Homo sapiens: one gene and its partners. The protein of the gene in region 1 purifies or fractionates together with the protein of each later gene. This does not show direct contact. Each region holds a gene or a part of one and is shown in the gene's direction. Other genes may lie near its edges.

Region 1 (3,520 bases):
CGTGGCCCACTCCGCTGCCACCCCTACTTCTTCCTGCCTCTTTTCTGTCCACAGCTCCCTGCAGGTGCCTCCCCCACGGCCTCTGTTTCCCCATATATCTTATTGGTCAGTGAGGAGGGAGGGGCTAACAGCAGAGTCCCCGAACTGGGGTCTCCAGAACTTCCACTCTGATTTTCTGTATGGGGCCGGTGGGGGATAGGGAAGGTTGGCCAAGGGTTATTCCTATGACTCCAGCTTTATTATTGTTATTTTTTTTCTGTGTAACACCCACCCCTGCCCTGGCGAAATGGGAACATGTGCACCCAGGAGTAGATTTTAAAAGCAACCAAACAGCATATTTTAATAAGGTCTCCCCTTCTCAGAAGTAACGCAGCTACTTGTGTTTTGAGAATCCTTCTAGACTTCCTTAAAACTGCGGGGGTGGTGGGGGGGCAGCTCATTTATAGTTAAAACAGGCGCCCAGCATGGTGGCTCATGCCTGTAATCCCAGCACTTTGGGAGGCCAAGGCAAGCGGATGACCTGAGGTCAGGAGTTCGAGACCAGCCTGGCCAATATGGTGAAACCCCATCTCTACTAAAAATACAAAAATTAGCCAGGCATGGTGATGCAGGGCTGAGGCACGAGAATTACTTGAACCTGAGAAGGCAGAGGTTGCAGTGAGCCGAGATTATGCCACTGTACTCCAGCCTAGGCGACAGAGTGAGACTTTGTCTCAAAAAACAAACAAAAAAAATCCCTAATCCAAAATGCTCAAAAATCTGAAACTCTTTGAGTGCCTACATGATACTCCAAGGAAATGCACATTGGAGCAGTTTGGGTTTCAGAGTTTTAGGTTAGGGATGCTCAACCCAAATATTCCAAAATCTGAAAAAAAATCCCAAATCTGAAACCCTTCTGGTCCCAAGTATTTTGGAGAAGGGATATTCAACCTGTCCTTCTGAAAAATGTGTATATTAGCTACTAGTTGGCTTTTCTTTTTAAAAATGATATATTTGGGACATATTTATGGGGTACATATGCTATTACATGCATAGAATGTGTAATAAGTCAGGGTATTGGGGTATCTATCACCTCAAGTATTTATCATTTCTGTGTGTTGAGAACATTTCAAGTCCTCTTCTAGCTTTTTTTTTTTGACAGAGTCTCACTCTGTTGCCCAGGCTAGAGTGCAATGGTGGGATCACAGCTCACTGCAGCCTCAACCTCCCAGGCTCAGGTGATCCTCCTTGAGTAGCTGGGACCACAGGCATGCACCACACACCACCATACACAGCTGATTTTTGAAGTTATTTTTGTAGAGTTGGGGTCTTCCTTTTGCCCAAGCTGGTCTTGAACCCTTAGGCTCAAATGGTCCTCTTGTTTTAGCCTCCCAAATTGCTGGGATTACAGGCATGAGCCACCGCGCATGGGTCCAATTTGTAGAGATAGGGTCTCACTGGCTTTTATTTTATTTATTTATTTATTTATTTATTTATTTATTTATTCTGAGACAGAGTTTCACTCTTATTGCCAGGCTGGAGTGCAATGGTGCGATCTCAACTCACTGCAACCTCCGCCTCCTGGGTTCAAGCGATTCTCCAGCCTCAGCCTCCTGAGTAGCTGGGATTACAGGCATGCGCCACCAAGCCTGGCTAATTTTTGTATTTTTAGTAGAGATGGGGTTTTGCCATGTTGGCCAGGCTGGTCTCGAACTCCTGACCTCAGGTGATCTGCCCACCTTGGCCTCCCAAAGTGCTGGGATTACAGGTGTGAGCCACTGTGCCTGGCCCACTGGTTTTTATTTTTTAACTTAACTCTATCTTGGAGATTGTTTTACATTGATACATTTACAGTTGCCTCATTTTTAATGACTTTACAATAATAATAATAATAACATTAACAATAGCAATAATAATAACAATGGTTTTATTGAGTCATTATAGTGTGCAAGGCATGGTTACAAATGCTTCATGCTGATTGGCTTACTGATTTGTCTTTGCAACAAATCTGTGAGCTAGGTTCTTGTTTCCATGTTATAGGCAAAAACACCAAGAGAGGTTAAGTTGTTTAACCAGCTAGTATGTGGCAGAGCTGGGATTTGAACCCAGGTACTCTGTTTTCAGAACTTAGGTTCTTTTTTCCTTTTTTTTTTTTTTTTTTTGAGATAGGGTCTGGCTCTGTCACCCAGGCCAGAGTGCAGTGACACGATCTGCCTCCCAGGCTCAAGCCATCCTGCAGTTTAAGCAATACTGTTAAGAATACCAGTGTGTGGGCTGGGCTTGGTGGCTCATGCCTGTAACCCCAGCATTTTGGGAGGCTGAGGCAGATGGATCACCTGAGGTCAGGAGTTCCAGACCTGGGCGACAGAGTGAGACTTTGTCTTAAAAATAAATAAATAATAACAGTGTGCGTCAGCTCATGCCTGTAATCCAGCACTTTGAGAGGCCGAGGTGGGTGGATCCCTTGAGGACAGGAGTTCAAGACCAGCCTGGCCAACTTGGTGAAACCCCATCTCTACTAAAAATACAAAAAATTGGCTGGGCGCGGTGGCTCACACCTGTAATCCCAGCACTTTGGGAGGCGGAGACAGGCGGAGCACGAGGTCAGGAGTTCGAGACCAGCCTGGCCAACATGGTGAAACCCCGTCTCTACTAAAAATACAAAAATTAGCCGGGTGTGGTGCATGCCTGTAGTCACAGCTACTTGGGAGGCTGAGACAGAAGAATCGCTTGAACCCGGAAGGCGGAGGTTGCAGTGAGCCGAGATCATGCCACTGCTCTCCAGCCTGGGTGACAGAGCGAGACTCTGTCTCAAAAAAAAAAAAAACAAAAAAAAAAAAACGGCCAGGTGCAGTGGCTCACGCTGGTAATCCTAGCACTTTGGGAGGCAGAGGCAGGCAGGTCATAAGGTCAGGAGATCGAGACCAGCCTGGCTAACATGGTGAAACCCTGTCTCTACTAAAAATACAACAAATTAGCCTAGTCCCAGCTACTCAGGAGGCTTTGGCAGGAGAATTGCTTGAACCTGGGAGGCGGAGGTTGCAGTGAGCTGAGATCATGCCACTGCACTCCAGCCTGGGCAACAGAGCGAGACCTTGTCTCAAAAAAAAAAAAAAAATTAGCTGGGTGTGCTGGTGCGTGCCTATAATCCCAGTTACTCGGGAGGCTGAGGCAGGAGAATAGTTTGAACCCAGGAGATGGAGGTTTCGGTGAGCTAAGGTCGCACCACTGCATGACAGCCTGGGCAACAGAGCGAGACTCCATCTTAAAAAAAAAAAATCTTGTTATTTATTAATCAATATTAATAACACTAATTTTAAAGCACTTAATATAGGTCAGGGTCTGTTCTAAACCATTTTATCACTTTGAATCTTATGGAATTGCTAATATTTGGAGGCAAGAAACAGTCGTATACTGGCAATTCCCCTGGCTCAACCTAATATATAAAATTTCATTTTTTCTTGGGAAGAACCCTCACAAGCAGGTTCCGTTATTATTTGGGTGAAGGGTTAGCAGATGTTCTTCTGTATGGGAAATTAAC
Region 2 (3,520 bases), on another chromosome or scaffold:
TCTACTTTTTGGCTATCATTTATAATGCTGCTACGAACTTTGGTGTACAAGTTTTTGTGTGGAAATATATTTTCATTTCTCTTGGAGAGGAATACCTAGGAGTGGGATTGCTGGGTCAGAATATTTGCATTTTAAAGGAGGATTCATCTGTAGCCATTGCTGCTTACTCCAGAGGACTGAATGTATTCTAAAATGTGGAAGTCCTGGTTCTGTGACATCTGAGTGTGGGGAAAAACTGCTGGGCAGAGGAGCCTTTCAAGTTTGGTGGCTGCCTGTTCCTTCTACTCATGAAACTTGTCCTAAACTCAGCCCATAAATTTCTCCTCACACCATCCCATCTCTCCCATTTATTGCCAGGTTCTTACTTTCAGGAGCACTGCATTTTTCTGATGTCACCAAGGCTGCCAGGAATTTGGGGAATGCTGGGCTTTGCCAGAGAAGGAGGGATCTCCTCTGAGCGAGGAGAGTTACCTCATCATCAGGCATTTGGCACTAACATTTGCCCATAGTTCTCCAGGGTGGAGGGGGGCGTGCACCCAGATGGTTTCAGTTCCAGACACGTGTGCTCAGAGAGGTGGGATGAGCTTCCTTGCCTGCTAGTAATTATGGTGCATGCCTCTTTGGGTCAAGGTGCAGAGGCTTGTGAAATACCTTTGTTTTCTAGGGGTTGGGAAGGTTCAGTTGCGGAAATAGGTATGTGCCAGGAAGGCTGGTGGCCCAGATTTAAGCCTGGCCAGCAGAGGCAGGAAGTGGAGGAGACAATATAGGGTAAGAAGGGGATGAGTCGATGAAGGAAGAAAAGAGACGTGGTTTTCTTGGGTCTGGGAGCACAGAAGCAAAAATCACTAAGCAGGTAGTCAGAGACTAGAGAGGGCAGAGCCACTCCCTTTGATGCAGAGGGGGCACTGAGGAACTTGCCCTTTCATTCCAGGTTTGCTGGTCGCTAGGCAGGTGTCCTAGAGTGAGACTGGCTTAGCAAGTGGGTGTCTCCTTCAGAGTTGGTTCAGGAGCTCACTTCCCTCTACAGACACACTGTCACTGCTAGGCCCTAGTGTTTTCCTTTGTTAGGGCTCCAAGTAATGAGAAAGGCTGCCCCATGTAGGGTGCCACCTCAAATCCTTTTTCTCATTTCACCTCACAGTAACCCTGGTGAGCCCTCTACATAGTGCCTGTCCAGCCCATGCCTCTGGGTAGGCAGCCACATAAAAATCAAACACCTGTTTTGTTGGCTAATCTGGGGAGGAAGAAAGGGAGTGATTCTTTGTGTCATACTCCACAAAGGGCCATCTCTGGCCTAGGCAGCACTGCAGAAGGCAGGACCATGTACCTGAGACTGATGAGCTGAGTCGGGTGCGAGCCTCACTCAAGGAGAGGGTAGAGAGGGTAGGTACCCACCTATCCCATCCGGCTCTGTTCTTTGAGTTTATGGGACTTCCTTCATCCTGATCACTTGGGTGCCATTGTTACAAGGGGCTGGCTATTCCTACTTTTCTTTTTTCTTTTTCTTTTCTTTTTTTTTTTTTTTTGAGACGGAGTCTTGCTCTGTCACCAGGCTGGAGTACAGTGGCCCAATCTTGGCTCACTGCAGCCTCCACCTCCCAGGTTCAAGTGATTCTCCTGCCTCAGCCTCCCAAGTAGCTGGAGCTACAGGCGTGCGCCACCACGCCCAGCTAATTTTTGTATTTTTAGTAGAGATGGGGTTTCATCCTGTTGGCCAGGATGATCTCAATCTCTTAACCTCGTGATTCGCCTGCCTTGGCCTCCCAAAGTGCTGGGATTACAGGCTTGAGCCTCCGTGCCCAGCCTCCCATTTTTCAAAGTGGGGAAACTGAAGTGACTGCTCCTCCAGCAGCTTGAGAGGCCATGTACACTTGGGGTGGGAAAGTGGGTGGGATTGAGGGGCAAAGTGAGGGAAGAGTGGGATACAGGGTGAAGATGAATTAAGGTTGCTGGTTTCCAGCTCAGGGGCAATCTCCACTTCCTTTACTTCCTCTTAGAAAGAACCTTACACTTGACTCCTACCCAGTCCTAGTGACCCCTGTAAAACCTGGGGAGTGAGAGCTGGGGGAACGCAGGCTTTTCCCTATTCACATGAGCCTGTGGTGTGAGAACTCTGCACCTCTCTCCTTATTTCCCTGGGGCCTCCCTGTTTATCTCCTTATCTCTGCTGTGGCGTCTTGATCTCTAACCCCTCAGCTATGTGTTTACCCCCTCCCTGCTTTGAGGAGTGAGTCAGGGTTGGAGATTTGTTTGAACAGAGTGGTGAGGCTGCCTATAATTTGGAGGTAGCTGGGCTTCTCCCAAAAATGTTTATGAGGTTAGAGGCTGCTTACCTTGTGATTAGTACTGCTCCTTTTTCCCTAGAGAAGAAGGCTCCACTTCTCATCTTGCCTTTTAGAGTACCCAGTAGAGACCCCCCTGCCGGATATTTTTGGGGTGTTCCTAAAGCTCCCTGGAGCCTGCTCATAGTCCTGAGGAAATGCAAGCCTGCTCTAGAAAACAACTAAGTGCACCAGGCAGAGAGGAGCCCCAGGATTTGCTCCTTGACTCTGGGTTGGGGGTGCAGGCCGAGGTCTGTGGCCTTGCTGACTAAGATGCATTCTCCAGTTCTGGAGGATGAGGTGCCAGAGAGAGCCCTAAGTTTTTCATCAGCTCCATTAGACAATTTACCTCATCCACCCTCTTCCCTTGCAGACTTTCCAGAGCTACTTGGGAAAGTAATGCTGCTTCACCCTTGTGAAGAGATGTATGGTTTGCAAATCACTTTTACATCATTCTTGCACATCTATCTACTCTTCCTAAAATGTCGGTTGTGAAATTATCACCCTCATTTTACAGACAGAAAACTGAGGCCCAGAGAGATTAAGTGATTTGCTCAAGGATTAATGGTCATCAATCAGGACTCAGACATCCTGCCTCTGACTTCAAGTTTAGTACTTTGTTTTGAAACAGAGTCTCGCTCTGTCACCTGGGTTGGAGTGCATGGCACAGTCTTGGCTCACTGCCGCCTTGACCTTATGAGCTCAATTGATCCTCTCACCTCAGCTTCCCTAGTAGCTGGGACTGCAGGTGTGCACCACCACACCAGGCTAATTTTTGTACTTTTTGTAGAGACAGGGTCTCATTATGTTGCCCAGGCTGGTCTCAAACTCCTGGACTCAGGTGATCTGCCCTCCTGGGCCTCCCAAAGTGCTGGGATTACAGGCGTGAGCCAACATGCCTAGCCAAGTTTAGTACTTTTTCTTTCCTTCTCTTTATATGTTTTATTATAGGAGTGTCACAGGGCTCACTGCACCTCTCTCCTTATCTCCCTGGGGCCTCTGCCTCCCAGGTTCAAGCGATTCTCCTGCCTCAGCCTCCCAGGCAACTGGGATTACAGGTGCCCACCACCACACCTGGCCAGTGTTTTGTATTTTTAGTAGAGACGGGGTTTCACCATGTTGGCCAGGCTGGCCTTGAACTCCTGACCTCTGGTGATCCACCTGCTTTGGCCTCCCAAAGTTCTGGGATTATAGGCGTG
Region 3 (3,520 bases), on another chromosome or scaffold:
GAAATATTCATACATGTCTTGAGTACATCTTTTGTTTTAGAGGCCTAGCAAATTTCCACTATCATAGAGAAATGTATGCTTTCTCAGTGAGATGTTCTGTTTATTATTTCATTTATCTGTGTTTTCTTAATTTTTTTTTCTGTTAATTTTAGAAAAGGAGTAACTAAGTAGATAGCATACTTAGGTCAGATTATAGTTTAGAATGAATAATTCTTTTTTTCTCAGTCAATGATCTTTGTACCTTGAGGGAATCTTACATGCTTATTGGCTGAATATATCTGGTTTTAGTCCATTTGGGCTCCTATAACAAAATATTCTAGACTGCATAGTTTATAAACAGAGAAGTTTATTTCTTAGAATTCTAAAGGCTGGAAGTCAGAGATCAGGGTGCCAGCATTGTTGGGAGGGAGGGCCTGCTTCCTGGTTCATAGACATTGTCTTGCTGTATCCTCAAATAGTGGAAGGGATGAAGGAGCTCTCTGGGGTCCCTTCTATAGGGGAACTAATCTAATTAATGAGGGCTCTACCTTCACGATTTAATCATCTCACAAAGGCCCCACCTTCTAATATATTATCACCTTGGAGGTTAGAATTTCAGCTTCGGAATTTTGGGTAGACATGAACATTCAGACCATAGCAGTATCTTATTAAGTTTTTCTTTACAATTTAGTAACTCAGTTGTTGTAATCAGATAATTTGTTACTTCTTAGATCACAGTGTAATTTCTTTGAAGATAACTTACTCTTTTTGGACTTCTTTGAACCTTGGAAGACTATAGACCCTTTGGCCATGTTATGGTCTTTTAAAATGTATTTTTGATTTTTCTAATGAGGCTGATCTTTATTTTGACCATCTTTTTTTTTCTTTCTTTCTTTTGATTGATTGATTGATTGATTGAGACAGGGTCTCACTCTGTCACCCAGGCTGGAGTGTGGTGGCAGAGTCATGGCCCAGTGCAGCCTCGACCTCTTGGGCTCAGGTGATCCTTCTGCCTCAGCCTCCTGAGTAGCTGGGACCACAGATGTGCACCACCATGCCTAATTTTCTTAAATTATTATTGGTGGATATGGGGTCTTGCTATGTTGCCCAGACTGGTCTTGAACTCCTGGGCCCAAGTGATATTCCTGCCTTGGCCTCCCAAAGTGCTGGGATTACAGGCATCAGCCACCATGCCCAGCTTGACCATCTTTTATAGGATATGTTTTGAAAAAAATTGTTTAGGAAAATATATTTTGAAAACATAAATTTCTTCATGAATCAGTTAATATTTATAATTTAGTGCTCTTCTAATTTTTGATAATTTTGTATTCGATATGCTATTTGATTTTATGCTTTAGTATTTAAAATTTATTTTTGTGGTTGTAAGAGGTTTGACATATATTTTCTCATTTGTCTATATTAAACTCATAACCATATTAAACATTTATTAAAATTAAATATTTAATTTATCATTAATTGTGGATTTAGGCTGACTGTTTTCTGAGTATTATGCATAAAAAGAAAGGAAAATCTTATAGTTATTGAATATACACCCAGGATCAGATATGATTTGTTTCTGACTTAGTCTCCCAATAGGCCTTAAGTGTACTTTGGTAAAATTTTACAATCTATGATAGAATTTCTGGTAATTCAGTGTACTTTGAAATACTGACTTAGCACTTTATGTAGCTACTTTCCATTCAGTTTGGCAACCTGATGGCATTCCTGGTATAGGAAATGGGATTGTCTCTATTACATCCCTTAAGGATGTTGGCTATTGGCCTAAATAGATATTCGTTAACAAATTAGGAATATATTCCTGTCTCATTTTAATCTGGAACTATAGAGTAAATGCTTCTGATAACTTATTTTCTATATTTTGGGTTTGCTTGATTTTCTTTTTCTTTGCCTTACAGGATGTTCAGCTAAAAGTAAAAACCTACTTGCTTGGAACTGATTTGTCTATATTCAAATATGATGATTTCATCTTTGTTTTGGATATAATCAGCAGGTAGTATTTAAGATCTTGTCTTATTCTTTAGTTTGAGTCATTCAACCATGATAAATCATGAGCTAGTGAGTTATCATCTATAACTTCTTTATGGAAATGAAGATAATTTTTGCTGCTAAGTTTGTGAGTGTATTTAAATATTTCTGCCCTTTGGGTGTTTGTAAACCTTTATGGATTTGTGATCTTTAGAATTTTTTCACATGTCCAAATTTTAGTGATTTTTTTTATCTTTGAAGAAAGAGAAACCACACTTCTTTTTCTCTATAAGGCTGCTGCTGAAATTTACTGAAACCTTTTTATCCAACTAGGTTGATGCAAGTTGGAGAAGAATTTTGTGGTAGCAAGTCTGAAGTTTTACAGGAATCTATTAGAAAACAAAGTGTCAATTATTTCAAGAATTACCATAGGTAAGAACTCTAATAAGATATGAATCGACTTATTTAGGTAATGAGAATACTTTTGTCTAATACTTAATCTTATAGCATTAATTGATTTTAAACAATTACTTTTGAATTTGAATGTGTTGTAGCTTTTTTAAGATGGTTAAGGATTTTTTTAACCAAAATATGATGAAATGTTCTCATTACATATTCATTGTACATTTTAATATATTTTTGTCTTGAGGGGCTTAAAATATTGAACTGATTTTTTAATGAGTAAAACATGATTATTATATCAAGGTTCACAGAAAGAATTTGGCCACTGTTCCATACCTGCATACATATGGGTGTGCTTATAAGGAAGTTAAATCAGTAGAGGCAGTGCTCAGTGAGGGGGTGCTTGAGAGTATCTATCTTTTAAATGTAAGAAGGATTCTAGAGGAGAGGATGTGATATTCAGAATTCCCCTATAAATCCAAATTTGTATACTGCATTGCTTTGCAAAACAATCACTGCTAATATTTAAAAGAGTGACTAGGAATGGTTTGGGTAGTGGAGGAAGGTGGGAAAGAATGTTTATAATAGCAGTGTGATTATATCCTTACAGCAGCAATAAATTGAGGGAAGGGAGAGCTAACATGAGATTTCTCTTGATATAAGCTAGACCCCAAGTTGTATCCCTTTTGTCCTTTGAGTTGAGTTTCATCTTACTTTTTATTCTGAACTTTTACTTTTTACAATTGAATTTAAGTTTTGATTTCCTTGTTATTTGGTCCCAGAGAGAGTCATGATTTGAAATTCTGCTTTTTCTCCTTGTTCATAGTCAACACCTGCTCACAGTGATATATGCCATGTCAAAAGAGAGATGACTGAACACCAAACCATTGATTAATTAATTATTATATATATTTGAATACAAGTTATCTCTGTTAATTGTAAACAATGAAGTAAATTGTTTGAAAAAGATTTAAATTGAACTATACTAAAGCAGAGCCTTTGAGTTTCATGACTGAGAATGTTTAAAAATTTTTTAAAAATTTAATTGACTAAACCTCAGGGAAACAGTGGGAAGGGACCAACAGGAAGCCCTAACACTGCCTTTATTTATAAGTTCCTTGTCTGCTAAAACTTAAGCCCTGACTAAAACAAA
Region 4 (3,520 bases), on another chromosome or scaffold:
ATAAAAGTGAAAATAGTATCTTGGTATTTGGACCCCATGCTCAATCACCTCATATGGAATTTGTCCTTTGGAAAACACTGGTAAATATATTTTTAAATCTTGTAAATTTTTATTTTAGTGTATATTGTAAAAGCAATTCTGAATTCTTTGAGAGATTGATATAACCCATGAATTTAAAAAACATTCTAGGGCCAGGCACAGTGGCTCACACCAGTAATCCCAGCACTTTGGGAGGCCTAGGTGGGAGGGTCACTTGAGCTCAGGAGTTCAAGACCAGCCTGGGCAACAAAGTAAGACCTTATCTCTACAAAAAATTTAAAAAATTAGCCAGGCATGGTGGCGTGTGCCTGTGGTTCCAGCTACTTGGAAGCTGAGGCAGGAGGATTGCTAGAGCCCAGGAGGTCGAGGCTGCAGTGAGCCTTTAGTCTGGGAGACAGAACTTGTCTCAAACAAAAAAAACAAAAACATTTTTTTTGTTTTTGTGGTAATAAATATTATTTACCATCTTCATTTTTTCCGTGTACAGTCCAGTAGTGTTAAGTACATTGTTGTGTAGCCAGTTTCCAGAACTGTTCATTTTGCAAAACTGAGACTCTGTACCCATGAATAATTTCCTATTCTCCTCCCATTCCCACAGCCTTTGGCAACTATCCTTCTACTCTTTTTTTCTATGAATTTGAGTACCTCCAATAAGTAGAATCATACAGTGGTTTGTCTTTTTTCATGACTCGATTATTTCACCTGGCATGATGTCCTGGAGATTCATCCATGTTGTAACATGCGTCAACATTTCCTTCTTCTATAAGGCTGAATAATACTTTATTGAATATATAATTCACATTTTGTTTATTCATTGATCAGTGGGTTAGGTTGCTCTTAACTCTTGGCTATTGTGAATAATGCTGCTAACATTGTAAAATATTTTTATTTCAGTTGCTACTTTTTGTTTTGCATTGTTTTATCTTTTTCTTCTTTTCAGTTGCTACTTTTGAGTCTCAAAGATTAACATGCCCTTTTAATTATGACAGGAAGCATGGTCTAGTTGTTAAGAGGGATTTGCTTGGCTGTTGGACTTTTTGGATTCCAATCCTGGCTTATCTCTTCCTCATTATTTCCCTGAGGGCAAATAATGTTTTTGGCTTTGTTTGTTCAGCTGCCAAATAGAGACATATTGTTAGGATTGAGATAATGTATGTAAAGTGCTTGGAATAGTGTGTAGCACATAGTAAAAGTGCAGTGAAAGGATTGTTTGTTCAGGTACCCATTCAAAAGTGATGCAGGCAATCTCCCAATTAGATAATACAAATTTGAGTTTCTAAACTCATTTGACACTGGGAAGGCAAAAATCTGGATTGAACAATACCAATCTATTTTGTGGGTGGGATTGAGAGGGCAAGGATGGGTACAAAAGAGACAGGACTGAATGTTAGGATAGGGTCCCGATATCTTAACCAGTTGTACACTGTGGTTTATCTAACCAGACAAGGAGCCTGAAAACCAGAAGCTGGTCTCTGTTATAGCCATCTCTTCTTATTTTTATTCCATGCCAGCAACTTGCAAAATCATGAAAAGTGGTAGACAGCAATTTAAACAGACAAACCAGGTTATACAGTGGCATGGCACAGGTTTGTAAAGTTTGATCAGTTGTGACTTAGTATATGAGAAGGTTGGGCTTCTGGTTGCTCCTCGAGAATGATGTGAACTCAGAGGTGACTTTTTAATATGTCAAATGCTTAAATTTGTAAATTGAATACTTAACATCTAGAGGACCACATGTAGCCTGATCAAGATTTTTGTCTTAAATCCAATAAGATAGCCCACATCAATAGGATACTGCATAATTGGTCCTGACCATAAGTTTCCTACACCACTGTACTATGGATGCCACAAGGTATGATGCTTCTGAATATAACTGTACTACATTGAGTGATTCAAATTTAATTCTAGTAAAATATAAGAATAGTATAAAATATTATGTTCAACACTGTTTTCCTTATGTATAATCTTATTTGAGTCATATTCAGTAGTAGTATGCTATTTAACATTGTAACCAGTAAAAATGTACTGTGGCCCACAACTGTTGAAATCTTGTCTATTTCCTTAGAGAAATGACTACACCCACAGAGCATAGTGAGTAGGGGAATATTTTTGTCATAATGAATTCAGTTTAAAATTTATGGCCATGTAATCTAAAGACAGAAACATCTAAACTTTTCCCATTTACTCTCCCTAGCAGTTAATCTATTAGCTTGGCAAATATTTATTGCATAAACAAAAAATAGTAATTGATTGAAGGGACATCTCTTTCAACCTGTTTTACATTTCATGCTCTTCTGTTGTTTCACAATAGCTTAATAATGATTTCGAATTAACATGTCTATTAAAACAATCCTAAATTCAATGTAGGATTTAGGGTGCCATCTTAATAACATGAGCAATCACCATCTTATTTTAAATGACTATATTTCATATAGTTTGTAATGGTTTTACTAAAATTTAATACAGGATAGAGTCACCGAGATGCATTTTTACATAGACATTAGTTCTGGCGATTTTAGCAGCAGTGACTGGTTAGTTTGGTAGTAAAATGAGAGACTAGGGTTGAAATGATACATAAAGGTTAGTAGGGTTATTTTAGTTCTCAAAATGCTTAATTTAGGTATTGAGAAAGTTTGTCCAAGTAAAGATGTTTTAAGTAGATTTTTAACTTTTTCTTATTTTTCAGCCAAACCAAACAGGAAGCTTACTTTTCTCTACCTAGCCAATGATGTCATACAGAACAGCAAGAGGAAGGGGCCAGAGTTTACAAAAGATTTTGCACCAGTTATAGTGGAGGCTTTTAAGCATGTTTCAAGGTATGATCATAGTTTTGGGTATTAGGTAATCTGTTTTAAATGTACCATATGTCCTTTTGCTAAAATTTGCCTTAAACTATTAAAATAAAAAGTAGGGAATATAGTTTTTTGATGCTTTTATTTGAAAAGACTTCCCTCTACATGGCATTTATAAATGTATTAAATGCCTTCTCTGAAGGAAAAATATTTTTTGAACTGTTGCTAAGGTGGGCCTTTGGAGTACTTGAATTACAGCTTTCCTTTAAGAGACCAGAACCAACTGCTATATTGGAATGAACTTCATTAAAAATGAATGAAGGTATTGAAGTAAAAATTTGTGTGTTTATAAAGCTATCAGTCTTGTAACAAATATTTCCATATACACTTAGTACTGTTTCTATTCTTTTTTTTTTTTTTTTTTTTTTTTTTGAGACAGAGTCTCACTCTCACCCAGGCTGGAGTACAGTGGTGCGATCTTGGCTCACTGCAACCTCTGCCGCTTGGGTTCAAGCGATTCTCCTACTTCAGCCTCGCAAGTAGCTGGAATTACAGGTGCCTGCCACCATGCCTGGCTAATTTTTGTGTTTTTAGTAGAGACAAGGTTTCACCATCTTGGCCAGGCTGGTCTTGAACTCCTGACCTCGTGATCCACCTGCCTCGGCCTCCCAAAGTGCTGGGATTACAAA
Region 5 (3,520 bases), on another chromosome or scaffold:
GTAAGACTACAAAGTAAGACCTGGGTTCGAAGCTTGGCCTTGCCATGTGCTAGTTATGTGAACTTGTACAACTTTCAAGCCCTAGTTTTCTTTATAATGGAGCTAATAATGGTTAGGGTAGCCAGCATCTTTGCACGAGGTCCTACTGTGAGATAATATATGTGAAAGTGCTTGGCCCAAAATACCACTGACAGATGAAGTCTGAGCTTGGTGTCCCGTGACCCCCGCCCCCCTGCCCACAACACACACACTGCTTGCCAGCTGTCTTCTTAGCTGTTCTTCTGTTATACCTCCAGGTCCTTCCTGCATATTGGATCCACCATCTTCTTAGGGTGGTCTTCCAGTCTCTGCTTCTTAAGTTAACTTTTAGGCACTTGACTTGACTCCTGGTATTACCAAGGATTCTACTTCTTGGTTTTGAAAGGTTATCAGTCCAGTATAGGCTTAAATATTACTCAAAGAACTTTCATATACATTGTCTCATCTCACCTTCACAACATTATAGTGACAAGATCCAGGCTCCTCAGCGTTCGTTTTATAAGTATGGCCCCCAGGCTACAATCCTGGGCTCATGGCTTCCAATTCTTTTCACATCAACAACTACCAGAAATCAAAAGCTGTGCTCTGCATCATAAAGCCCCAGCTATTTTTGAGGCACTTATGAAAATTCTCCCTTTTCTTTGAGAAGAATGGATTATAAAATGGATCTGTGAGAAGAAATTTGGATGTGTTCTCACGAGATGAGTCCTGGGCAGCAGGACTTATAAGAAAAGCAGCTTAAACAAGACAGTTAAAACTGACAGCAGTATTAAATGGTGCACCATACCCAGCCCTTTCCAGTCACTTTCAAATTTGGAAGGTCCAAAAATGAACCATTTAGCCTGCAGTTGTTTGTCAGGATCAAGCTAAAAAGGAAGCCTAAGTGAGCCTCCATAGGTCGCAAGAGAGTACAGACATCCAGAAGCACTAAGGAAAATTCAGATAAAGCAGCAGTTCTACAAATGTCATCTGCAGTCTTTTTCCAGAAAGAGAGGGGGCACAAGATCCTTTTAAGGGTCTGCAAGGTTAAAGCTATTTTCTTAATAACATTAAAACGTTAATTTTTTCCCTGTATTGATAATGTGCACTATTCATACTAAAAGCACGGTTGGGTAAAATTGCTGGCATTTTACAAAAATCAGACAAGTGGCACCAAACTATACTAGTAGTCATTGTATTCTTCACCACCACACACTCACAGTAAAAAAATAGTTTAAAGCCAGTTTCATTTAAGATTGTCCATCATGGCTAGGTGCAGTGGCTCACCCCTGTAATCTCAGCACTCTGGGAAGCTGAGGCAGGCAAACTGCTTGAGTCCAGCAGTTCCAGGCAAGTCTGGGCAACATAGAGAAATCCCATCTCTACTAAAAAATACAAAAAAAATTATCCAGGTGTGGTGGTGTACCTGTAATCCCAGCTACTCCGGGGACTGAGGTGGGAGAATCACCTGAGCCCAGGAGGTTGAGGCTGCAGTGAGCTGAGATTGTGCCACTGTACTCCAGCCTGGGCAACCAGAGTGAGACCCTATCAAGGAGGGAAGGAGGAAAGGAAGGAAGGGAGTGAGGGAGGGAGGGAAAATGTCCATCATTACTTTTATAAAATTCTCAAGCACACATCTTTTTAATGCTCTGTGACAAAATGAGAAGTACACAGAACTTGTGCTGCATACCAAAGTATGATGTTTGTCTCAAAAACTACTTGTGTGATTAAGTTGTGAGTTGAACTAGCTACTATTTTCATTGGACACCATTTTTATTGTATATGGTCATTCGGTTTTGGGTATTTAGAATACTTTTTTTTTGGAAATGAATGAAGTGAACCTGTCACTTTAAGGAAAATGACTGACATTTGTTGCCAATGATAAAATCTGAGCTTTCAAGCAAAAATTGGAATTTTTAGAAAACTTGTCTCTGCTACTTTGACCTTGAGATCTTCCTAAAACTTAAAAAATGTTGTTGATGAGATAGGGAGTATTAATAATAGTGATATTTTGATGCTCTATAATGAAATGTGTCAATATATAGAAGATCTGCATAACTCAGTGAACCAATATTTTGTAACTAAACAATGCAAGGTATTTCAAAATCATGTAAGGGTAAAAGATCCATCCTAAGTGCCAAGATATAAAGAGTACAAAACATTCATTGATATGGTTTCAGATTCCACATTGCAACTCACCTTTAAGAAACTTCTACGTGTCAAGTTTTGAAGTGGTATCAAAAAAGAATACAATTATTTGAAAAGTCTATTAAAATATGCCTCCCTTTTCCAACTACTTATCTGTGGGAGGTTGGATTTCCTTCATATACTTGAATCACAAGACGTATCTAAATAGACTGAATGGAAAAACATATATGAGAATCCAGTTGAAAATTATTAAGCCAGACATTAGATTTGCAAAAATGTAAGATAATACTCTGCCTGGTAATTTTTTGTTACTGTTTTAGAAAATAGTTATTTTTCATTAAAATACTATTCATTATTTATGTTAACATGTAGCGGGTTTATTACATTTAAGAAATCTATTAGTTTTAATTTCAAATACAGTAAATATTGATAAATACAGCCTACATAAGCAAAAGTTCTTTGGAGTCCTCAATGATTTTTTTAAGAGTGTAAAAGGGTCCCTAGACCAAAACGTTGCTGTGGAAATAAAGTAAGTTATAATGCCACCTGCTGGCAAAGCCTGAAATCATTGCTGCTCCTGAAAGCAGCAGCTACCAAACTGTTTCCTCACGTATATCCAGATAGGTCTCAAAGAATGCTCTTCTTTGAGACTCAGCCAGGGGAAGGCAGCTGGGGTGAGTGGGGGAGATTTTGAGACAGAGTTCTCTTACTGAGTAGTAGTAATAATCCTCCCCAGTAGCCTGTCTTAACTTAAACCACAGGTTACTGAAGTTGGCACCTGTAGTATAAGAGATTTACTTCTGTTTTCTTCATTTGACTCCTTGAGCTGTGTCTCTTCACAGCTTGTTAACTCCACTTTTTCTTCTTCAGAAATATCTGTCACTATAAGATGTTTTATTCCCTTATAGGGGAAACGTCTAGCTGGGCTCATTGAAGTTTAGGCATTGGTCCTAAAGAAATATGTGGGCATCATGATTCCAGGCAGTTGAATGCTCTTGGGATTTTATTCAGCCTTTAAGTTGCCTCTGTGGGCTCACTAAAATGGAGAGAAAAGAATAGTTCGGGGGAGAGGTTTTTTCTTACTCTGACCATGTCTGTCTAACAGTTCCTTGTTTGAAATCATCCAATAGAAAACTGAAGCCATTTGAAGCTTCTCCCCACCCCACCCCATGCTTCATTTTCCTTTTGGCATTGCTCATAATACTGATTCAAACTTCACACTTCCCTCCTTTTGTTTGTAGATTTTAAATGGAGGGACTCCAGACATTCCTTCCAGTGGCCTACTATCAGGCCAGGCTCAGGAGAACCCAGGTTATCCATATTCTGATAGTTCTTCTATTCTTGGTAAGTGGCA

The links.
Region 2: the proteins of PHLDB3 (region 1) and TUFT1 purify together in Homo sapiens (affinity purification with mass spectrometry, with the first as the bait; one large-scale study listed by BioGRID). This does not show direct contact.
Region 3: the proteins of PHLDB3 (region 1) and VPS50 purify together in Homo sapiens (affinity purification with mass spectrometry, with the first as the bait; one large-scale study listed by BioGRID). This does not show direct contact.
Region 4: the proteins of PHLDB3 (region 1) and RPRD1A purify together in Homo sapiens (affinity purification with mass spectrometry, with the first as the bait; one large-scale study listed by BioGRID). This does not show direct contact.
Region 5: the proteins of PHLDB3 (region 1) and BMAL1 purify together in Homo sapiens (affinity purification with mass spectrometry, with the first as the bait; one large-scale study listed by BioGRID). This does not show direct contact.

Annotation. Positions count from the first base shown.
Region 1 is NC_000019.10:43,491,246-43,494,765, reverse strand, and holds part of PHLDB3 (pleckstrin homology-like domain family B member 3), read left to right. Parts: coding exon 1-64; intron 65-3,520.
Region 2 is NC_000001.11:151,546,796-151,550,315, forward strand, and holds part of TUFT1 (tuftelin), read left to right. Parts: intron 1-3,520. UniProt on the Homo sapiens protein: Involved in the structural organization of the epidermis. Involved in the mineralization and structural organization of enamel.
Region 3 is NC_000007.14:93,294,847-93,298,366, forward strand, and holds part of VPS50 (syndetin), read left to right. Parts: intron 1-1,895; coding exon 1,896-1,990; intron 1,991-2,298; coding exon 2,299-2,397; intron 2,398-3,520.
Region 4 is NC_000018.10:36,033,043-36,036,562, reverse strand, and holds part of RPRD1A (regulation of nuclear pre-mRNA domain-containing protein 1A), read left to right. Parts: intron 1-2,725; coding exon 2,726-2,855; intron 2,856-3,520. UniProt on the Homo sapiens protein: Interacts with phosphorylated C-terminal heptapeptide repeat domain (CTD) of the largest RNA polymerase II subunit POLR2A, and participates in dephosphorylation of the CTD by RPAP2.
Region 5 is NC_000011.10:13,382,282-13,385,801, forward strand, and holds part of BMAL1 (basic helix-loop-helix ARNT-like protein 1), read left to right. Parts: intron 1-2,198; exon of another isoform or gene 2,199-2,443; intron 2,444-3,407; coding exon 3,408-3,510; intron 3,511-3,520. UniProt on the Homo sapiens protein: Transcriptional activator which forms a core component of the circadian clock.